3 linked regions of the Homo sapiens genome follow. The protein of the gene in region 2 interacts with the protein of the main gene of each other region in a biochemical or structural test. Each region holds a gene or a part of one and is shown on either strand. Other genes may lie near its edges. The genes, in order: SELL, PRKCQ and RASGRP3.

What was found.
Region 1: the proteins of PRKCQ (region 2) and SELL form a complex in vitro, tested with the Homo sapiens proteins (one study listed by BioGRID).
Region 3: of the proteins of PRKCQ (region 2) and RASGRP3, one has a biochemical effect on the other in vitro, tested with the Homo sapiens proteins (one study listed by BioGRID).

The regions. Positions count from the first base shown.
Region 1 is NC_000001.11:169,694,152-169,702,024, reverse strand, and holds part of SELL (L-selectin precursor), read left to right. Parts: intron 1-336; coding exon 337-465; intron 466-5,471; coding exon 5,472-5,490; intron 5,491-7,873. UniProt on the Homo sapiens protein: Calcium-dependent lectin that mediates cell adhesion by binding to glycoproteins on neighboring cells. Mediates the adherence of lymphocytes to endothelial cells of high endothelial venules in peripheral lymph nodes.
Region 2 is NC_000010.11:6,478,775-6,486,647, forward strand, and holds part of PRKCQ (protein kinase C theta type), read right to left. Parts: intron 7,371-7,873; coding exon 7,261-7,370; intron 6,496-7,260; coding exon 6,378-6,495; intron 4,827-6,377; coding exon 4,666-4,826; intron 392-4,665; coding exon 218-391; intron 1-217. UniProt on the Homo sapiens protein: Calcium-independent, phospholipid- and diacylglycerol (DAG)-dependent serine/threonine-protein kinase that mediates non-redundant functions in T-cell receptor (TCR) signaling, including T-cells activation, proliferation, differentiation and survival, by mediating activation of multiple transcription factors such as NF-kappa-B, JUN, NFATC1 and NFATC2.
Region 3 is NC_000002.12:33,471,654-33,480,241, forward strand, and holds the start of RASGRP3 (ras guanyl-releasing protein 3), read left to right. Parts: upstream 1-4,995; 5' UTR 4,996-5,054; intron 5,055-8,588. UniProt on the Homo sapiens protein: Guanine nucleotide exchange factor (GEF) for Ras and Rap1.

The sequences.
Region 1 (7,873 bases), on a different chromosome or scaffold from region 2:
GTGTTTCAGAGTTCCAGTCATTGAACAAGTCCATGGAGCTAAATACAACGATGACCATTCTTGCCAACATTTTTAGGTGCATTTTCAGGAACTCTATGAACCACAAATCTGGGCATTGAGATTCTGTAGGCATTAGACTAGCAAGGCTGGTCCAGTCTTTGCCTATGCTGTAGACTCATCAGGGGCCTTCCCATGCCAGTTTCCTCATCTGTCAAATGGCATCAAATGGGCTACTACTGGGAGATGTAAGGAGGAAAAAAGTCAAATATCATGAGATAGACTAAGGAAATAATGCTGGTGGTCTCATGCTATGTGCCTTACTGATTTCTCTTTCAGAATTGGACAAAAGTTTCTCAATGATTAAGGAGGGTGATTATAACCCCCTCTTCATTCCAGTGGCAGTCATGGTTACTGCATTCTCTGGGTTGGCATTTATCATTTGGCTGGCAAGGAGATTAAAAAAAGGTATGTGAGTTTAACTTCACATGAAAAGAACACAACTTTAAAGTGAAAAAGAAAAAAAAAAGAAACCCACAGGAAATTAAATGTGATAGATTCAACACAAGCAGGATGCCAAGCTTTACATTCTAGAGCCATCAGTCCCTGGAGACATGTAAATCAGCCCAGGACACACCTTCATTAAAACAGGTTGGCTGATTTTCGCTTTTCATCTGATAAACTTTTAAAAATGTCTATTACCTTCAAGGCAGCTTGCTAGGCTGATAACAACTAAGTGAGATATTCTAATGGTTCTTTGCTCTTATGTAATTCTTTAATACTTTTTTTTTTTTGAGACAGAGCCTCACTCTGTCACCAGGCTAGAGTGCAGTGGTGCAATTTCAGCTCACTGCAACCTCCGCCTTCTGGGTTCAAGCTATTCTCCCACCTCAGCCTCCCAAGTAGCTGGGACTACAGGAGCGTGCCACCATGCCCAGCTAATTTTTTGTATTTTTAGTAGACACGGGGTTTCACTGTGTTAGCCAGAGTGGTCTCGATCTCCTGACCTCGTGATCTGCCTGCCTTGGCCTCCCAAAGGGCTTGGATTACAGGTGTGAGCCACCACGCCTGGCCTGCTCTTAATTAATTCTGAAAAAATGACACACTATCTCTGTCCTCTAAGAGCCTACATGCCTTGGATTTCAATGCTACAATTCCACTAGGAAGTGGGTCTAATGTCCACTAAGGTTTCAAGGCACTGCTCCCAAATACCTGACCTCTTCAAGAGTCACCTGGTTCCCAACACATGGGCATTGCATTAACCCTGGGAGAAATTCCCATGTATTCTCCCAAGTATCTATTCACCAAGGCCACAGCTCTAACCAAATGCACCATATATGCTTTCCAACCATCCGTCACTGGAGAGGAAAAGAGAAGGAGGACTGCCTTGAGAAGTTAACATCTGCTGCCCAGATTATCACTCCCTTTACCTTAAGGCATGAGTGTGTCTCAGCTTTAAAGTGTGAGCAACCCACTAGCCTGCAGCAGGCCTTGGGTGTATGGTGCCACATTTGGCCAAACTCACCTGGAAGAACCATTCAAGGCTGTAACATTCATGGACATTGGGCAGCTTTTAAGATATACCTGTTTTGGCCAGGTGTGGTGGCTCATGCCTGTAATCCCAGCACTTTGGGAGGCCGAGGCGGGCGGATCATGAGCTCAGCAGTTCAAGACCAGCCTGGCCAACATGGTGAAACCCTGTCTCTACTAAAAATACAAAAATTAGCCAGGCGTGGTGGCGGGCACCTGTAATCCCAGCTACTCGGGAGGCTGAGACAGAAGAATCACTTGAACCCGGGAGGCGGAGGTTGCAGTGAGCTGAGACCGCACCATTGCACTCCAGCCTGGTGACAGAGTGAGACTCTGTCTCAAAAAAAAAAAAAAAAAAGATATACCTGTTTCAAGTTCAGGGATGATCTCGAAACAATTGCTAACCAACTGCTCTGTGTTGCCTTTCTGTGGGCTCAGTTGATTGTCATTTTAATTTTCCTTCCATCAAATTAGTTAGTACGTATTCTGTTCACTGAATATGGTATGTAAAGGTTGCCCCCTGTCCATTTACACTGGCAATTACAAAAATATTATTTATCAGTCCCTAATTGCGTGCCACTCTGATCTTATCTTTCATTTAAATTTGAGAATAGTGGGCGCTAGGTAAGTTTTCTAACCAATCCAGAAAGACAAAGTGTGTGAGGGGGGTGGGGATTGTTGATATGCAAGAACTTCATTAGCTATGTATAACCTGAGAGCACTGAGCAGTTAAAATGTCTCTGCCCTTGCTATTAGAAATTCTGTGCTGATTGAATCTCACTATCTTATAGTATTATACAGTACTAAGTACTATACAGTACTAAGTATAAGTATCAAGTACTGCATTAAGGCAAAAGAAGAATGACAGTTTTCTCCAACCACTGATTATTCTTTCCATTGAGACTTCAAATCTTGACCCCGGTTGTCCTGTCTTTCTTCCTACCTTGGGCGATGATGGCAGAACTGACGGATAGAGAACAGGGTGGGTTATTACACACTGCCCCCTGGGATAAGGTGGCTATTGTCTAAATAATTTTAAGGACTTTGGGGCTGTAAGTCACCTTAATAAGGAAGCTATTTATTTCCGAATTCTAAAATCTTTTAATAAGTGTTTGTAGAATCAAAAGAATAGAATCAAACTCATTTGCATGTAGTGAGGGGTTAGCTGGCTAAGGCTGTTTTATAAGCAAGGGTAAAAAAATTAGAGGGGTTGTTTTTAAATTTTTTACCTTGGAGTCATTTCTGTACAAGATCTCAAACCGATAACTTGAAAACTGCTGTGGGAATCAGTGTGGGGCAAACAGGAAACAGATAACGGGCAGTTAGGCTAGTTACAGTTATGCCAACAAAGAAAACAGAAGCCCCAAAAGATCACTGGCTTGGTAGGAAGCTTAGGGTATCTTTAAGATAACATTAAATAGTCTTCATCTGTGGGCCAGGCACCTTGGCTGTCACCTCTAATCCCAGCACTTTTGGAGGCTGAGGCAGGAGGATTACTTGAGCCCACGAGTTCAAGACCAGCCTGGGCAACATGGCGAAACCACATCTCTACAAAAATACAAAAAATTAGTCAGGCATGGTAGCATGCACATGTAGTCCCAGCTACCCAGGAGACTGAGGTGGGAGGATCACTTGAACCCAGGAGGTCAAGGCTGCAGTAAGCCATGACAGCACCACTGCACTCCACAACAGAGTGAGGCCCTGTCTCAAAAAAAAAAAAAAAAAAAGTCTTCATTTATAAAACAACATCTTCCATTTTCACCAACTTACAAATGATTCTGCTTTCCAAAGATTTTAGTTGTAGGTTGGTCCTTTAAAACATGAAGAGTATTTTTCCTATGGAGGCAATGGTAGAAATAATGGCTACATTCCCAGGCTAAATCTAAGACAAAATATAGTTAATGGCATTTACAAGGATAAAAGTAAAAAGTCATAAATCTCTATGTGTGTGTTTAGGTGTGTGTGTGTGTCTATGTGTGTGTGTATATGTATATATATACACAGAGAGAGAGAGAGAGAGAGAGAGAATTTATAGGCTTTTTGGGTTCTAATAGTTAGAAAAAGGGCACAGGTAACTATTTAGAGCATGGTAGCCAATGAAGTGACTAGAGCCTTCACCCCTATTCTTCTGTCCTCAGATGAATCTTCTGACTCTAGCACTTTGTCCCCTGCCCTAGTAGTCTTAGTATGGAGACTTTCCCTCCTTTCTTTTAGGAAAGGAATAAGGAACAGTTCCAGAAACATGTGTCCTTGTGCATGGGCTCATCTAGACACATTTTGTGCACCAGGCATTATCATTTTCTGATTAGTCACTACCATTGGCCCTGTTTGGTAAATAAGGAAACCAGGGCAATGATGTTTTAGGCCAAATCTCAAAAATACCATATCAGCAGGACCCAGAGTCAGAGATTAGACTCCAGTCCAGATACATCTTCTAAAATCACTGGTCTTCAGATTTGTGAACTGGTTTTTTCCTCGGTTGGAAGAATTTCCCACCAGAACCAACACACAGGGTTAGACCAGGGCATGAAACTGAACACATGCCCCCTTAGTTCCTTTTTCTTCAAAATGAAACTCTCTCAGTAGGAACAGATTCTTACTCATCTATTGCTGTTAGGTTCATCATCCCTAAAAAAAATATTTATGTGAAGCTAACCAGAATCTGAAATTAATTCAGATTTGATTCCCCCTGCTCAAGTGCACTTGGTCATCAGCAGGCTGAATTTTAGAAGAAAAGATTTCAAATAGTAGTCTTTAATACTTTAAAGGATTAAAACAGTAATGCAACACTGTCTACGTGCTAGGACCTGAACTAAATACTTGGAAATATTTTATTTTATCAACCCAATGAGGATGATACAATTATTATGCCTCTTTAACAGATGAAGAAATTGTAGTTTAGAAAAGAAAGTAGCTGTTCAAATACACACTACACTACAGGTGGCAAAATAGGGCTTTCACCTGGGTAGGATGATTCTAGAATGCCACTTTACAGCCACTGAAATATATTGCCTCCCAAATGATTCTTTCTGCTCAAAGAGTTTTTTTTAAGTTATCTACTTATTTATATTCTGCTTTTTTCAAAAAGAATGTGAGAACAGTACAAAATGTGTTCAGTATAGCAAATTAAAATTAATTAAAAAGTAAGAAAAAGAAGCCAATTTGGGCAACCCACTCGGGTCCCCTTCCACGCTGTGGAAGCTTTGTTGTTTCGCTCTTCGCAATAATAAATGAGCTTGATGTTTTATTGAGTACAAAAAAAAAAAAAAGAAAGCCAAATTTAAACTTAGGGTACAAAAATCATTTGGAACCAAGGTTGAAGTTATGGCACAAAAATGTATGTCACAAAGTTTTATATACTTGGTAGGAGAGGGTCTCAGATCTAGCTCTGAGTTTCCTTACAGCCAGTCAAAGGAGAACCATGTGATATTCCTTGTGTTTGTAAGATAAAAACACATTAGTTACTCAGATGAGGCTGCACAATTCCTACCAACAAGACCAAAGTGAAATTCTCTTGTGGATTCTCATAGAGATGATGCTGTGAGCTGTAATGGCACATAGTTTTACAGTATTAGCAGCTGTCCCTCAAGGGAAGAATCTGCAGGTAGGATGAGATGGCAGATTGGGAAGGGATAAACACTTGAATGGACATATTGGGTCTTGCCACCAGGCAATTTAGCAATTCTGTCTTCTTGAGTAGCACGGAGAATGGAATGGAACCTCAGGAGGCATCTGCATCAACATGTCTGTTCTGTATTAGTGTCTACCACTGTTTATTAAGCCAGTTCCTCAAATCTCCTTTGACACAGATAGGGTCCACCTAACAAATACCTAATATACTTCAAAAGACAGTTTTGAGAGTGGGAGTCTTCCTTCTCCCTTACTTGAAAAACTTTAAATTGTCTAATTTTTGCTAATGCCTTTTCTCTATTTTCTATTTTCAGGCAAGAAATCCAAGAGAAGGTAAGTTTTATTAGTGGCGAGGAGTTTCCACATCTGCTGATTCATTCTCTACTTCCTTAAGTTACTTCCTGCTCTAGCTAGACACATTAACCCCATAGTAGTTTATTTACCTGGGGTCCTCATCCAAATGACCAGATAAGGTGATAAATCTACTAGCTTCCTTTCAGAGCTGTGCTTTTTGGTGCTAGTGGAGCTGAATGAATGAATGAACGAACAAGTAATCCCTATTAGAAAAGGGCAGTTTATGTAAAGGGAGATTTTTCTGATTACCTCAGAATTTTTTCTGAGGGTTAAAAACATTGTGGTGTGTTCTTCTTGTTCTTAAATATATTATTTAAGAAATATTCAATTGAACAAGCACTTATTGAGAAATGAATAAATGCTTATTCAATTGACTATTTGCATTCAATTGCTCTAACAGGCATTGTCCTTCAGAAATGTGGGAAAGATAGGGAGCATGAATTCTACCTACAGCTTCCCCAAGGAGGCAAGTATTTTTCAGTTTGGTCTTGAAGCTCAAATTTCTTCTACTGGAGAAATAGCACAGTGGGAGGAGATGCAGACATGTGAAAGTTGATGGCCCACCTGGCAGAAATGAAGATGGAAAAATATTTCTCAGTATCTAGGGTTTAGTGACTTGCTCTGGAATTTTAGGAAGGAGAGTTTAAGTAAAATAAACTATGAAAGGAGGACTTTGGTGACATATTCAGTACCCAGCTGGACAACTGAGCTTCCTTTAAAATGCTAGAAATGAAGTGAGATGATTTCTGAAGGGATTGGATGCTGGTTTGGGCAACCATCCTACCAATCACAAACTTAGTATGGGCCATTGCTTAGAATGCAAAGGAAAAAGTGGGGAAAAATGAGGCACCAGAAGCCAGATCATAAACTAATGTATAAGCCATGTGATATGGGCTTTATCTTGAGGTCTTTTGGGATATCACTAAAGGGGTTTAAACAGTGAGTAGCCTTACCTCTGGCATCTTATAAGGTCACCCTGCAGAGCAGTATGGCAAGTGTGGGAGACAGGTGAGCCTGGATTCAAAGAGACTTGTTTTGGAGGCATTTGCAGTTATTAGATTAAAACCGATGGCGCCTGTCTAGGGAACTAGTAGTAAGAATGGGTTCATGAAATAAGAGGAGGTGATATTAACTGAATGTGTCTGTTAATTGGCTAAAAGTGAGAGAGAAGAATCAAATTATCATCTTTCTCACCTGGAAACTGGCGGATGGTAGTCCTGTTTACTTCTGAGAAGGGAACATAAAAGAATGAGAGGTTTTGGAGGTAAAGATCATGGGTTCAGTTTTGTACTGAGCTTTGGGTGTATGCACATCATTCACTGTGGCTCATTGGACCTATCCAAAGCACAGAGGCTATGGCAGGAGAAGTGGATTTGGGTCCCTCACATTTCAGGAGGTAACTGCCATCTCAGGAGTGGGTACTATCATCCAGGGAGGGTGTGAGTGCTTTAAGAATGGAAGAGGACCTGGGAGAGAGTATGGGAGCCAGAGGAACATCATTATCTAATAAGTCACCTAAGGGAAAGAGAAATGAAAAGATGTTGCCAGGCAGGGAGAAGGAAGAGGAGAAAGAGTGTGGGGTAATGAATGCCAAGGAAACAAAGAAAGGGGAACGGTTTCAAACATTGCCAAGAGAACCAGTAAGTATCCCCTGGATGCAACAAGGGTGTCAGTGGGGAGACTATTTGCAGTGCAGACATCAAGACAGAGGTCAGACGGCCAAGCATTGAGCATTACTGAGGATGAGAAAGTAGAGACAGAACAAGCAGTCATCTCTTTTAAAATGTTTGGCTGTGAAGGAGAAGTGGGGCAGGGGTAACTGGATGAGGATGTACGATCAGTGGAGGTTCTTTTTATTCTTTTTAATTACTCTGTCTTCTCTTTACTAGTGCAAATGGAGTCTAGTGAGGAAAGGCTTCTTTCTCTGGGCTGGTCTCCCTATGTCTGTGGCAGGAAACCCACAGATGTGAAGATTTCTTTCAAACTCGCACCTACTGAGTGAAAGTATTTTCTGGCACAATCTACCCAGAGCTGTTTTCTGGCTACCGGAACCACCTGTTTTAATTGCCACTAGATGGAAGCAGATCAACTAGATTTTTTTTTTTTAAGATGTCCTTGAGGCACAGGAGGAGAGACTGGCTGGAAGAATATTAGCAAAAAGCTAATTACCATGCTAAGCAAATTGCTATATTAAGTTTAATGGTTCACTGATTTTTTATAATCAGTCAATTAATAGTTGTTTATTGAACATTTTTGTGTTGGAAACTGCTAAGCTTTCTTGAGACAGCAAGAGGAGTCAGCCTGGTCCCTGATTTCAGGAAAATTATTACCTAGCTGGGGAGTTAAGACAGGAATATAGAAA
Region 2 (7,873 bases):
ATCTAGAAGTAAAGATCTTTCCCAATTGATGACACTAAAACATTCTAAGTAATACTTCCATGGTGTGTAGAAGGGATGTTTGGATGGATGGCAGGTACACCGAAATGTAAGATAAATATGGAGGCAATGACTCGTGTCTCCTAATGAGGGCGCCATTGAAGGTATCATGCTGAGACAGGTTAGAGGGGAGGTAGGGTTGTCGGAGCAGAAGCCATACCTTGGTCTGGAATGTACAAAACATGTGCGTCAGAAACGGATGCTCCCAGGCCAAGGAAAGAACTCTCTTCTCTACCATCGTGCACTCAACATCATCGTCCATCAAGACCACATCTTTCTTTAAGGCCTTTATTGCGAAAAATTGATTGGTTTTCTTGAATTCTGCCAGGAAGACCTAGAAGGAGAGGGAAGAAGTAACTTTATTTTAGAATTTGGATTCCCATTTCTTAAAAAAGAGACAGAGTCCTGAGAGACACCTGTGTTGGGTGGGAAAAGGGGTTCCTTCTCCAACCCCCATCCATCCTGCATAGGCCATTCCTGAGACAAAATGGAGCACTTCTCTGGTTTCGGACATGACATCACTATTTCATACTATCTTTGTACTCTTTCCAAGGGTTCACAAAATTATTAAGCAATTGAATGGATTTTTAAAAGTGTGCCCTGCCTGCTCAGGGATCTGAGTGAAGGTACAATAAAAATCCAGAGAGATAAAGTGCACAGTGAAGAAAGAAGAGTTGAGTGTGGAGAGGAGAAACTGTACTCGAAACATCACTGCAAGTGCACATAAATCCTAGCTTTACGTTTTACCCAGTTTTTCCAGGCCAAAAGAAGAATGGAGGGATATAGTTCTCCTTGTGTACTTAAAAAATAAACACCGGCCAGGTGCGGTGGCTCAAGCCTATAATCCCAGCACTTTGGGAGGTCAAGGCAGGCAGATCATCTGAGGTTAGGAGTTCGAGACCAGCCTGGCCAACATGGTGAAACCCCGTCTCGACTAAAAAAAAAAAAAAAAAAAAAAAAAAAATCCAAAAATTAGCCGGGCATGGTGGTGGGTGCCTGTAGTCCCAGCTACTCGGGAGGCTGAGGTGGGGAATTGCTTGAACCTGGGAGGCGGAGGTTGTGGTGAACTGAGATCATGCCACTGCACTCCAGCCTGGGCGTCAGAGTGAGACTGTGTCTCAAAATAAAAAAAAATAAATAAGTAAACACCATTTTCTCTGACAACACAGCAATGAATTATTCATAGCAGAATGTATGGCATGTAGTAGGTCCTAAAATGTGACTGACACTGGGTTCAAAGGATAACTTGCTCAGATTCTTCGAGCTACTAGGGAAAGATTTAACTCCGAAGTTTACTTTCCCACTTGATTTCGTGGCTCTCGTATCAAAGGACACCAAAATGGGAATGAAACATTTTAGGACCTACTGTGTGTCATACACTCTGCTACCTACTTTACACTTACGACCTAATTGTATTATCTAATTTAATTCTTAGCTCATCACACTCTGCAAGACAGAAGTTAACAACATCAACAACAAACACTGAGTTCAAAGAATAACTTGCTCAGATTCTTGGAGCTATGAGGGAAGATTTAACTCCAAAATCTACTTTTCCCACTTGATTTTGTGGCTCTTATATCAAAGGACACCAGATGGCATATGATGGAGGGTTTCAACAATTTTAGTTTTTGCAAATGATGCAGCAACACACTGTTGGCAATGGTAAGGGCATGGCATTTGGATACAGAAAATTCTAGCTCTAGTTTTATTTCACAGACATTTATTAGCTGTGGAAATGTGGGCAGATGAATTAGCCCCTCTGGGCTTCAGTTTCCAATTACTACTGCATTCTCTAACTTACAGGACTGTTGTGAAAGTCAGGTAAGATGAGACCTGGGAAAGTAGACTCTAAAATGATCTCTGAATCACAGTTGCTAAAATTCAGTCATTTGTCATTTGTTTCTGTTATTGACTTTTGGGAAAGGCCGAAGTCAATGATGTGACAACAGCCCTGAACATGTAAGTGTCTAGGTTTAAAAGCGACGGAGCAGGTTCGTAGCTTGATGGTAGCTGACTTGATAGAAGGGAAGGGATGAAACTTAGATGGGAATTCAGGCAAATGAATGATGCTCACATCCCCAGAGAACACACAATTTGTTTTCTTAGGCTTAAAATTTGTTTGAGAACAAGGGTATAGAGGTCTTGGTGAGGAAACATACTTTCCACATAAAGCCAGAAGAGAGAGAAAAGACAAGTTTTGGAGTATTCTCAGTGTTGTGAGAAAGAGAAACAGCCATCCTGTCTTGCTTTGATATCTCCCCCTCCTCTCCTCTCCGTGTATAGGGACCCAGGGTCCTGATGAAAAGAAGTAGACAGCTTTGGACATGGAGTGGGGGAAACCTGGGGCTCCCAGCTGCACCTTGGGATACCGACTAAGGCTTGTAGGTTTAACTTAATGTCTTCCTTATTAACCTTATTCAAATGTGGAAATCCACATGGGAACAAAGAAAGATAAACATTTCATTAACAATTAAAAGTCCTCTTTTAGTAATTGCTTCTTTCAGTAAAACACCCTAAAACCAGCCATAAACTAAGAAGCCAAAAAGACAATTTCCATCTATATAATGTGCTTTCAATTTTTGGTAACAGGTTATAATTGCACATTAATTGCTGCTAAATTACAATGAAGACTGGCTGTAACATTGCCTATTATGCTCAGATTAGCACCAAATGAGCCTACTGTGGTTCATATTATTGTGGAACTGAACAAAAAGAATTCCTGAATATCAGCTACCATGTGCTGGACAGAGTCGATTCTGCTGAAAGGCAAGGCATCAGTGTTTAAATCCAAACCCCAAATGGAGCTCAATATTATTCAGCTGTGGTGACCGCTCAGTTGCATTTTAGTTTGTTTAATATTAAATAAACTGGGTAAGACATCCTGCCAAAGTCTGGTGAGCAGTTGTGGTGTATAATGCTGCCTTTGGCTGCACAGATTCATAGAACAGTCATCTCTGATTAAAATTTTCCTGGGAGTCCCATCCAAGAATGTAAAACAAATAGGAGCCCCGTTAATACATGAGATACCCTTAATATCAAAAATTACCTAAAAGCCTATATTCCATATCATCCCTCCTTAAATCACCAGCTTGAAAATTTTCTGCAGTCACCGGTAGTTGGTTATAATTTCTTAAATTATCTCTTCTTCCTTCTTCTCACCTCCCCTTTTTTTTTTTTTTGCTCCTCCTCTCCCTCTTTCCTTCCTCTCCTTGTCATCTGTGAGTGATGGAGACAACCCCCCACCTGCATGTATGGCAGGAAGAATTTAGAGGAGGGACTTTCTCCACAATTTTTTTCCAGGACTCTCAAGCTACAGTTTTCTTATGGGCTGAATTGTGTCTATACTGAAGTTCCAATCCCCAGGACCTTGGAAAGTGACTGTATTTGGAGACAGGACCTTCAAAGAGGTAATTAAGGTTAGATGAGGTTATTAAGGCAGGTCCTAATCCAATATGACTGGTGTTTTCACAAGAAGAGAAAATTTAAGCAGAGTGTGGTGGCACAACTGTAATCCCAGCTACTAGGGAGCTGAGACAGGAGGATCACTTGGGTTCGGGAGGTCAAGACCAGCCTGGGCAACACAGTGAGACGTCATCTCAAAAAAGGAGAACACTTGGATGCAGACATGCACAGGAGGAAGATGATATGAAGGCATGGAGAGAGGGCGACCATTGCAAAGCATGGAGAGGGGCCTGGGAAGAAACAACCCAGACAACACCTTGATGGTGAACTTCCATCCTCCAGACCTGCGAGAACATGAATTTCTGCTGTTTAAGCCAGCCAGTATGTGAGATTTTGTTATAGCAGCCTGTATTAGTCTGTTATCACACTGCTAATAAAGACATGCCCGAGACTGGATAATTTATAAAGGAAAGAGGTTTAATGGACTCGGTTCCACACAGCTGGGGAGGCCTCGCAATCATGGTGGAAGACAAAGGAAGAGCAAAGGGACGTCTTACGTGGTGGCAGGTGAGAGGGCATGTGTAGGGAAACTCCTCTTTATAAAATCATCAGATCTCATGAGACTTACTCACTATCATGGGAACAGCACAGAAAAACCCATCCCCATGATTCAATCACCTTCCACTGGGTCCCTCCCATGACACCTGGGGATTATTACAATTCAACGTGAGATTTGGGTGGGGACACAGAGCCGAGCCCTATCACACCCCAAGGAAACTTATACAAGCTGGAAGATATTTAATAGAGAGAGAAAAAAATCACATGCAAACTAAAACAACACTCCAGGCTTGAGAATGAAGCAAAAGAAGAGAAAACAAAATGAAACAAACACAAACACCGTGTGAAACAGGAAGTGGCTGAGGCACCTTCCTATTTCTTTGGTGCCCAAAGACATCAAACTCATAGGCGTGTGAGATGTACACTCTCCAAGCAAAGTAGCTTTGGAGACACAGGTTTCCAGAAAGCTGAGGCTACTATGGGCCTAGAGCCCTCGGGGTCCCTATTTATTCAGCGCTCCCTCAGGAAAGCTGTCTCTGACACTCACATGCAATCCTAGTGGCCCTATGAGTTTAATTTCTTTGACCAGGAACTTGGCTCATCAGTTCCTGGAGTTGGGCCATAGCATTCTCCCGTGCATTAGCTTACCTTGCCAAAACTTCCTTTCCCCAACATTTTGTGCAAGATAAAATCCTCAATTTTTAGTTTAATCTGCAGAGATGGTCTTTCTTTGTTCAGTTCAGGTTCTGGAAGATGGCACATTTTATCCACCTCATCCAACGGAGACTCCCAGGAAATGCCCTGAGGCTCTGAAAATGCAAGCTGGTGGTTAAAAATGAACATGGAGTAATGGAGGTCATTCTAGTTACTGAGAGCACATGCTTTCTCTTCTACTTCCCATGCTGAGGCTCCATCATAGTAATTGGGGGTGTTTAGAGGGTTTCCTACAGTTCAGGCAGCTTTAATACCTTTCCATCTGTCTGTGAGGGCAGCACCCCCTGTCTGTGAGCCTGGCATTTGGATTTTGGAGTGTGGACTATGTCTCTTTCTTCAATAGACTGGGAAATAGTTCAACTTAAGAAACAAATTCCAATCAGTAAAAGACCATATATGCAAAATACACAAGCACTGTTAATAATGCCACATCAAGGACATCTAGGGATTTTAACCAAATTTTAGGAAAAAAATGATTTTCAATTGTTTGCATGGCTCACAAACACAGTGGCATCAATTTCTACAATTTACAGCGTGAGAGAGACAGGAAATGAAATCTAGCAGATTTTTAAAGATCTGAACTGCATCATTCATCCCAGAATTCAAGTCAAGATGCTGCCTACGTTGGCCGGGTATGGTGGCTCACACATGTAATCTGACAACTTCGGGAGGCCGAGGTGGGCGGATTGCCTGAGCTCAGGCATTTGAGGCCAGCCTGGGCGACATGGTGAAGCCCCATCTCTACTAAAATACAAAGAATTCGCTGGGTGCGGTTGTGTGCGCAAGTAGTCCCAGGTACTCGGGAAGCTGAGGCAGGAGAATCCCTTGAACCCACAGGGCAGAGGTTACAGTGAGCTGAGATTGTGCCACTGCATTGTAGCCTGGGCCACAGAGCAAGACTCTGTCTTCAAAAAAGAAAAAAAAAAGATGCTGCCTATGTTGATCATTGCTAAGACATAGTCTCCTTGACTGCCTGGCAACCCCTCCTAAATGTAACCCAAACCTTTCATTTACATTTTTAAGTTGATTTGAAGTCAGAGAAAACATAAGAGAAATTTTTAGGAATTTCCCCCTGCCTACAATAGTCTCTATATTTTTAAATCCCTAGGTTTATCTTTCATACTCTTCCAAGGACACTAAGTATTTTAGAATGTATGCTGAAACGACTCAGGTCTCAGAAACATGGGTCATATCCACTCATGAACTGCTTTCAAACAGTAGGCTGGAAAAACTGCCATAATGTCATGAAAGTGGCTTTGAGTCCTTCTCTTTCCTACCCTTAAATTTAAGTCTCAAAGGTGCAGAGTAAGAATGTCTTCTGTGGCCTTCCCACCATCAAATTTTAAGACAGATTTATTTCTGTGAAACCATTTGACACTGACAGAATGTAACATGCTGAAACTCTAAGAAAACATTTGTGGTTGTTCCCTCCAGACCTATCCCATTTTCTAACCCCCACCTCCTGCCTTTTACAAAGGTAAAAGGTTTTAGTTTCTTTTCTAAGAAGTGGGAGCCTCTTAGTTGGTAGCTGGAGGTGGATCACCTATCAGACCAGGTAAGCTGATAACTTAAATCCAAGGGCATTAGGTTAGGGTTAATTGAGATTAATGACTGACAGTGATTAGACTGCTGATCAGGACAGCTACCTCTTTTTCCCGGTGTCGGTAAACATGGCGGCCTTGCTTCATTTTTGATGGAGCATGGGAGACCAATTTCAACCGGACCTTCTCTGAAGATCTGTTCAGTATCTCTTAAGCAGCGAGCCTGGATGACAAACAGAGAGTCAGACCACCCACCCACCCACCATTGATGGAACAGCTCAGCCTGCTAACGATGGGGACAAAGGCCATTTAAAATGTTTAAATGCATAGGGTCAACAAAGATCTCCTTATCCTCAACGTTCTTTTGGAACCCCATATTCTGGGAGAGTCTATCTACTGTATTTTATGCATTAGCCGAACACGTTTGCCTCCTTCACACTTTTCTGGGGCTGACAGGATTCTCTCATGCTGTCTACATCATTCCATCACAAATAAGGACAGGTAGTTAATGGATGGGAAAACAGCTGATACAGGCAATGCCAAGTCTTAAAGAGGGTTTATCCTTGGATCTAGGAATTCAGCTAATGCCAAAACAGTAAACAGCAGGCCAAATTTGCCCTGGACTCGGTGTTCCATGAGGATGATGCTAGCACATAAGTGTTTTCCCCCAGGCTATTCTATAACCCGAATATATTCACATAAAGCTGTCAATGAATCTTCAATAACTTTAATGAATTTATTTGTTTCTGCAATGCTCATGCCATGAAGAATTTAAGATTTTATAAAGATCTGCATAATACAAATGCATTAAATAAATATCTCAAAGATAGGGGGTGTGGGCATGGATATGAAAGCCAAGGGCAAGGCCGGTGCTCAGAAATACATCCCGGCATTTCCCATAGGGCTGCCACAGGTGAAGCAGCAGAAGTGCATGGACATCCTTGCTGAGCGGCCATGGCGGGAACGTGTCCACGGCACATGCTCCTACCTGTTGAGTGCTCTCAATCATGGCCAGCGCTTCAGCCATTAGCTTCTGGTTTATGCCACAAAGGTTGGCCACCTTTGTCTGGCATCTATGATGCACATTCATGCCACATGCTGGAAGGAAGAAGGCAGATAGTGAGCAAGAGTGGAAGAACCCCCTGGTGCTAAACAACTCTCTCTGGAGGTAAGACAGAGCCTTGCGGATAGGGAGGAAAGCCTAAAGTGCCACGGCTGGGAGGAAGTTGACCCTGGCTCTCCCTGGTAGTGATCCTCGTGCTGGAAGGGAAGTGAGGTAGGAGGTGGGACTCAACTCTGGAGGTGGGGTTCAGACGCCAGACCAAATTGAAGACTAGCTAAAACAGGGACAGGGCAGAAGCAGCTTTCCAGAAGATGCCCACCTGCGTGCCATGTCAGTTTAGTGTTGCCATGGCAACACCCAGACGTTACCACCCTTTTTCCAGGAACTTAATTTGCATGTAGTTAAAAGTGGTATAAATAGGATTGCAGCACTGCCCTGAGCTGCTACTCTCTGCCTCTGGGGTAGCCCTGCTCTGCAGGAGCAGTCATGGAGCTGTAACACCAACAGAACTGTAATACCGTTGGCCAATGAAGCTGTT
Region 3 (8,588 bases), on a different chromosome or scaffold from region 2:
CAGTTAGAACTTGATTGTGTAAGTAATCTGAACTAAGAGCTTTTTTTGGAAATAATTCCTTATTAACTTTTACATTTTTCCATGGTTACTGATCTGTTGTTTTTTGACTTCTTCCTGGGTCAGTTTGCTTCTAATTATTATTTTGGCTATGTCTCCCAATATTTGATATGTGGTATTCTCATCACTGAAACCTTCTAAGCATTCATTCTGTAATTGTGTTTTTAATTTATTCTCCAATCAATGATTTTTTTTTTTAAGAACTCTAAAGTTTCCCCAAGAGCGTGGGGTCTTTTTGACTTACACTTTTGTAATTAATGTATAGTTTTATTACAGTGTGATCACAGAATATGGCCAATTTCTTTTGGAAAGAAATTACTTACAATTTTTTTTTGGTAGCCTAATATAAAATCAAGTTTTGCAAACTTTTCTTATATTTTTTTCTTAATGGGCTAGACAGAAGATCCTTCTCTTTAATTATTCATTTATTCATCGAGGATTGTTTCCACCATGTGTCTCATACATGCCAGGCATTGTATTAGGCATTGCAGGATATAAAATAAGTCATAAGCTTTGTCTTAGATTGGTAAAGTTTGGATGGAACACAGACACATGTAGACCTAATTATAATACAGAAAGAAATGCAACCGCAGCGAAATGTACAAAAGCAGCAGGCAGCTAGAGTGGGAGTGAAGCCCTGAAGGTTCTGGGAATACAAAGTTGCCTACGATGGCCCGGAGGGGCTTTCAGTCCTAGCGTGTAAAACATACATTGAGATCAGAGACAGGCTTTTTGGAGGCAAGGTGATTAATTAGGAAATCACCGCAGACCTTCAGTAATAAATCAGAACATATGAGGGGCGGTAAGAGTGCAAGATGAGAAGAGAGGATTTTCACACCTAAGGGGCAGATAGCGGAAGAGAAGCCCAGACCTGAGGATGAAGGAGGTAGTAGTAAAATTTTATAGACGCCATGGGAGAGCTTTTCAAGGGGTGGTTGGTCAGTTGGGACAAATAGAGCCAAAAGGTCAAGTAAGATGGCTCACGCCTGTAATCCCAGCACTTTGGGAGGCTGAGGCGGGCAGATCACGAGGTCAGGTGTTCGGGACCATCCTGGCCAACATGGTGAAACCCCGTCTCTACTAAAAACATGAAAATTGCCGGGCGCGGTGGGTCACGCCTATAATCCCAGCACTTTGGTGACAGAGCAAGACTCCGTCTCAAAAAAAAAAAAAAAAAAGCAAAAAGTGTCGGTTGCCTTTGGTCTTTGGGGACTTGGAAAGAGCAGTTTCAGTGAAGTGAGGGAAAAAAAGCCAAGCCACAAGTAGGTTGAGAGTAAATGGGATGTGAGATGGTGAAGACAAGTATTTTTTCAGGAGTTTAGTTGTGGAGGGAATGCAGGAGTTAGGGCAGTAATTAAAAGAGCAAGTCTGGCTGGGGGCAGTGGCTCACGCCTGTAATCCCAGCACTTTGGGAGGCCAAGGTGGGCAGATCATGAGGTCAGGAGATGGAGACCATCCTGGCTAACATGGTGAAACCCCATGTTACTACTAAAAATACATGTCTCTACTAAAAATACAAAAAATTAGCTGGGCGTGGTGGCGGGTGCCTATAGTCCCAGCTACTCAGGAGGCTGAGGCAGGAGAATGGCTTGAACCTGGGAGACGGAGCTTGCAGTGAGCCGAGATCGCGCCACCACACTCCAGCCTGGGCAACACAGTGAGACTCCGTCTCAAAAAAAAAAGCAAAAAATCAGAAAGACTGTTGTTAGGATATAAAGACAATGTGAGAACGTGAGCATGTTTAGCTAATGAGCGCACGCTGAGAGCAAGAGAAGGCGTGGTTGTTGTCGAGAGTCCTAAGCAGGTGGGAGACACAGGGTGAGACACAAAGCCGAGGTAGGAGGTGGCCTCTTGACAGGAAGAGGGCACCTCTTCTTGAGTCGAAGACAATGCTTGGAACTGGTAGGGAGTGTGGGCAGAAAGATGGGATCTCCCCCATTTCTTTGCAAGGCTGTGTTATTGTAGAACCTTTAGTCACACTCCTGGACTCTGACTGAAAGGGTCCTGGGTCTTGGCCTCTGTGTTAACAGTTTGCTTCATAGGGAGGATTGAGGATCCATCCCTTCCTCTCCTGGCTATAGAACTAGAAAAGAACCTCTACACCAGTGGTCCCTAATGTATTTGGCACCAGGGACCAGTTTCATGGAAGACAATTTTTCCATGGACCGGGAATGAGGGGATGGAGATGATTTCAGGATGAAACTGTTCCACCTCAGATCATCAGGCATTAGACTCTCATAAGGAGCATGCAGTGTAGATCCCTCGCGTGCACAGTTCACAATAGTGTTCATGCTCCTATGGGAATCTAATGCCACAGCTGATCTGACAGGAGGCAGAGCTCAGATGGTCATGCTCCCTTGACTGCTGCTCACCTCCTGCTGTGCAGCCTGGCCTCTAACAGACCATGGACAGGTACCTGTCCATGGCATGGGGGCTGGGGACTCCTGCTTTACACTTATGATGTAGTTTGGATGTTGTGCCCACCCAAATCTCATGTTGAGATGTAATTTCCAGTGTTGGAGGTGGAGCCTGGTGGGAAGTGATTGGATCTTAGGGGCAGATTTCTCATTAATGGTTTGGTACCATCCTGTTAGTGCTGTTCTCATGATAGTGAGTGAGTTCTTTTATTTATTTGTTTATTTTAAGACAGAGTCTCACTCTGTTGCCCAGGCTGGAGTGCAGTGCAGTGGTGCGGTCTTGATCTTGGCTCACTGCAACCTCTGCCTCCCAGGTTCAAGCACACCACCACGCCCGGCTAATTTTTGTATTTTTAGTAGAGACAGGGTTTTGCCATGTTGGCCAGGCTGGTCTCAAACTCCTGACCTCAGGTGATTCACCCTCCTCAGCCTCCCAAAGTGCTGGGATTATAGGCATGAGCCACAACACCCAGCTGATAGTGAGTTCTGGCAAGCGCTGGTCATTTAGAAGTGCCCCCTGTCTGTCTTGCTGCTGCTCTGGCCATGTGACTCATCTGCTCCCACTTTGCCTTCCACCATGATTGTAAGTTTCACGAGGCCTCCCCAGAAGCCGAACAGATGCCAGTATCATGCTTCCTCCATAGCCTGCAGAACCATGAACCAATTAAACCTCTTTTCTTTATAAATTACCCAGTCTCAAGTATTTATAGCAATGCAAGAATGGACTAATACAACTTAACTTTCCTGAGGCTGTTGTCGCTGTTGGGCATTGAAGAGTTTCTAGAAGTCCCTGTTTCTTTATGTGGCATGCAATGGATCATCAGAATAATTAACCCAGTCAATGGTAAACAAAGTGATGGATGGATGCCATCAGATCACAAAAGTTTCTATTACTGTAAATACAAGGGGGTAAGTAAATCAAAATAATGTTTCAAATCCTCAGTAGGCCTCTTTTTCTGTTTCTAATTGAAGATTGTCACATCAACACATAAACAAAAATGCCTGTGAGGGAAATGTGTATTTTATGCATTGCATTTTTATATCTGAAGTTTATTTCTATTACTAACTTGAAATGCTGAGGAAGGGATTTGTTTTGGTGCTTACAAAATTCTCCCATTTGCTCTTCGGACTCTCACAAGTTGACAACAAATTACTGCCCTGATAGTATGGTGAGACTGAGGGTTTTTTGTCTTTTTCTCTTATTCTAGAAAACACTGTATCCTCTATATGGAGGGAAATTTCTGGTTTGATTAACACTGTAAATAATTATGAGACAAAGCCTAAATATAAAAGATTACTCACACAGGCTCTTACACTGAGTAAGATATTATGTGTTAAAAATCAGGGTTAATAGTTTAACAGGCACATTATGGTTCAGAAATCCCCTGGGGGACTTCAACCATCTTTTCTGGATGTTCACTTTGCCAAATAGGCTGCCTCTATGTCATATCTCTACCTGAAGGGCAGGCTCAGACACTGATTCGGGGAAGTGTCACCCTTACTATACCAAGAAGTCAGACATCCAAGGTCAGACACTACGTAAAGTCAGATACTTCAAGGGCTTTCCTTGGAAGGGAGGATGAAAAGGGAAGGGTGGGAACATCAGCTCAGGTGAGACATATGAATTCAACAAAACATCAGGGATGGTTTGCCACGTTTGCGAGCAGCACAGAAAACGGCAGTTTGCTCCAAGTTCCCAGCACACCAAAGGGGGCAGTAGTGCGTCTGTAAAGCGCGTTGTCAACTTGGTGATAATTTCTGTTTGCATTCACACTCGCCGGCTGATAATCTCAGCTGCTCGATGCAATTCAACAGATAACAATGCGGAAGTTTGGTCTAAAGCTACCTGAAATCACTTCCAAGAGCTCTTCAGATAAAGCTGCCTTTGATAGTCTTCATTAACCCCTCCCATATTTGCCCCTCAGCGTCCCTTGGCTTAGCAGCCCCGGCCTTTGAAGTCCAACCTAAGCATTCTTAGATGGTGAGTGAGGGTCTGCCTTCCCCAGCACCAGCCACCTAGTCAGGCTTGTGGCTCGTCTAACAAACTGGAGCCTGAGATTCTGAGAAAACGAAACCAAACAGTTGTACTCCGGGGTTAACACAGAGCAACTTCCACCTGCTGTGCGAGTTGGTGATCCTCTCTCTTGCCGTTCGAGAGCCCCAGTGAAACTTGAGTGAGATGAGAGAGCATGGAGCCTGCCAGTCTCCCCCTCTGCGCACACACACACGCAAACACATTTAACTTTCCACTTGCAGTGACCTGCCCTTCAGTGTGACTTATCAGCTGTTTGGCTTTTGTCACTAAAGGAAAACAAATTGTGGAATATCCCGCTCTGCATGCTCATGAGATGGCTGAGCCAACTCAGGGGTTATGAGGTGGTTTGCGAGTGAGGAGAAGAATGATCTTCAGTTTCTGACCTCCTGGCACGGTGGCGGGCGGTATTTATCAGGAGGTACATGTGACTGGTTAAGACTCAGAGCCCCAGCTTGAAGGAAACAGCTGCTCTCGGCGTGCTCCGGCACTTGGCAGCTGGACAGGCAGAGTGCTGATGTGAAAAATACCACGACAAAACCACCCTAGTAAGTAACTGGAGAACTTTCCTCTCTCTCTCTCTCTTTCATTCCCTCTCCGTGTGTGTGTGTGTGTGTGTGTGTGTGTGTGTGTGTGTTGCAAGCCACCAACAACTTTTGATTTTGATTTTGGTTTCCCTCTGGCACGATAGAAGGAGATATTTTATTTGTACCTGTTAACAGCCATTGGTGTTTTCACAGCCCTTTTTTAGAACCTGTTATTTTCGGCAACGTGTCTTGTAACTTTGAGGATGAATGGGGCATATGGCTTCATTCCTGTCTAGGAAACAGAAAGTTTGTTTCCCAGTGTTCAAGATTTTTCTAGTCCATGGTGTTTAGGTTCAAAGTCAAGTTCAGGTTATGAAGTAGAGACTTCATTGAAGTGAGTTGATGACTAGATTTGATTTTAATCTGTTTCTACCACTGAAACCTGAAAACGTAGTTGTTTAAAGTAACTTGTGAATTTATTGTATGGCTGATTTGATTTTTCCTATTCAATTTTTGAGAATATCTCATTTAACTGTGTAGAACTGTCTGCAATATAGAAGACTGACAAAATAATATTTAGATTCACATTAGAAATCATATTTAGATTTCTTGCATGGTTTCCAACTAATTGAAAGCTGTATTTTATAGCGACTTTTTTTCCCCCCAACAAGCTAATTCACCTTCATTACTTTAAAATGTTCAGTTGCCCCTGGTCTTCCTTCACCTTCATTACTTTAAAATGTTCGGTTGCCGCTGGTCTTCCTTATTTTAGTGTTTTCGTGATACTCAGGCTGTTTTTTCCTTGTTTATGACCTGACTGGGAAAGTGCTGCCTGCAGCTGATGATTAACTCTGGGAGGCCTGGCATCCAAATTACGGAGAGAACCGGCTCCTTCTCAGGTTCATTCAGCAGTAATGGTGCTTGCGCTTGGGCGAGCAGCAAAGCAGGCACCATGCTGGAACTGAGCTGTTGTTCGGTGACTTTTGTCCTTCCTTGGTAGTCACCAGACAGAATGCTTCAGAGGAAAGGCAAAAGGGGAAAAGAGAGAGGGCAGAGCTCTAAACTGATGACGTAAAGCTCTGAAAGTGACAGGTCTTTGAATCAGAGGCTGCAGGGAGATAACCAAACAGGTTCCTGTTTCTGGAGATCGCGTGGATCTTGAGGAGGGTGGGCAGAGAGGGGCTGTTTTTATTTGAAGTCTCACCAAATAGTTGTTTTGCTTGTGATAAGCCTAGGACAACCTGGAGTGCGCTTGTTTCCTCGTGTGACAAATGGATTCTCATACAGGCTCAAGCTATACGGTTTTCTTTCGCCCTCTGCCCCCTGCCATGAGGGAACACTGTTCTCTCCCCACCCTTACCATCCTTTGTTGTTTGTGGAGAATGGATTAAAAATGACCCAGGGCACGGCACTTCTGCGATCGAGTTTCCCTCAGCACAGTGGGTCTTGAGTACCGCACCAACCAATGTTCTCTGATGGAAGCAGTTTCGGATGCCCTGTCTAAACAAATGGCTAGTCTGACATTGAGAAGTTCTCCACCTTCTTTTCCTTCAAATGTAGAAGAATCCACAAAATGTAGAGTGGCCAATGAGGAAAAATAGTCCCAACTTCTCTGTTCCTCGGTATGGCATTTGTGTGAGGTCCTTGGGTCAGCCCGCGGCCATGTGGTCTGTGACTTCCCTGTCTGACTGCTGGGGGAGGGGGTTCCTCCTGAGTCATTCTTTAGGGAGTTTGTTCCTGGTATAGTTTCAGATTTTCCACAGGTTGATAGTGGAAGAGAACCCTCTGGTGAAATTGTGTCTCCGGAATCATCGAGCCTCCCATAATAAAATGGAATGTCTAAATGGGAGCAGTTGAATTATCCAACTGCTGTATTTTTGAGAGCCAACAGGCTCCTTTGAAAAACCCATGCCTTTTCAAAATATTAATAGCAAAATAATAAAAAATAATGATTTTACTTGCAGATAGTACATCCATTGACTCAAAGACTTTTTGACCTGGATAGGAATGATAGAATGTGCGATTTAACTCTTTCGTATCAAAGATGAGGAAACTGTAGCAAATTTATCGGAGTTACGGTGCAGAGCCAGAAGAGAGAGCTCAAGGCTTCCATCATAATTTCAACGCTAATAACAATCCCTTACTTTTATTGTGCACTTACTCTGCCAAATGATGCGCTAAACAAGTGTATTTATTTTCATAGTCTCCTCACAATAACTCTATGTGTTACATATTATTATTCCAGTTCTATAGATAGGAAACTGAGGTTCTTGACCATACGTAACACAGACAGGAGGGACACCCTTAGTTACTTGACCATATGTAACACAGACAGGAGGGACACCTGGATCTGACTGTAGAACCTGTATACATTAAAAAATAAAAGTGGAATCCCACACATTTAAATGTAAAAACTCACAACATGCAAATGAGAGTATTTCCAGCACAATATGATTACACACACAATGTGTGTTATGCCCTTTTCGAGCTCTCCATGACAGGAAGGGCTAGGTTTCCCCCTGTGACAGTCCAAGCCCAAGCTCTCTCTATAGGATCGCTGGCTGGTGGCATGTTTTTCTCTTTGAAAATAGTTCAGTGACGGTCTTGATGTTGGTAAGAACAGCAACCGGGAACTTTGTTATTAACCTCCAGCACACGGCTCCCATGCCCCTTCTGGCCTTTCCCTCCAGTTTTCCTGTCACTCCTTTCCTTTGGAGGACAGCCACTCCACCCATGCCCCACCCCAAATAGCTGGCTTAGTGTTGATAAAGCTATTATCAGACCCATCCCCTTTGCTCAGCCTGGAAGGTTGGTTGTCCGAGTAGGTTGTTGATGAATAGAAACCATGCACTCTGCCACTCTGCGCTGTTTTTTTGAGCTGTGGGTGTAAGGGGTGGGTCACGGGGCAGGGGACTAGCTGGCAGTGGTGAGGGAGGAGAGGTATGCTTTTCTTCACTGCCTGCACCTGCCATTTACCCTGAGTCCTACTTCTCCACACACCAGTTGCATATCTAAAGCTCTGACTGTCTCACGGGTGGGCCATAAACCTGTGGATTTTCTGGGTCATCAGACTTGCAGAGCCCTTAAGAAACCTGCCTCCTGAATCCTTTTAAAAATGTCATTTGGCTGTCCACATTCCTCCACTTTAGGTTAAGTGTCAAAATTAGGGTTGGAGATAATGGGAAAGAGCACCAGGTAGTATGTAATCAACAGGGAACCTTTTATTAATCAGGAGGAAAATCAAGCAAGTATGCCATGTGTGGATGTTTCTGAGGAAGTTATCAGTGTTTCTGCAAGGTCGTTCTGGCAAGATTACACATTTTGAAGATCAAGCTATTTATAGCATGAAAGAGGAATTTTTTTTTTTTTTTTTTTTGAGACAGTCTCGCTCTGTCGCCCAGGCTGGAGTGCAGTGGTGAGATCTCGGCTCACTGCAAGCTCCGCCTCCAGGATTCACACCATTCTCCTGCCTCAGCCTCCTGAGTAGCTGGGACTACAGGCGCCCGCCACCATGCCCGGCTAATTTTTTTGTATTTTTAGTAGAGACGGGGTTTC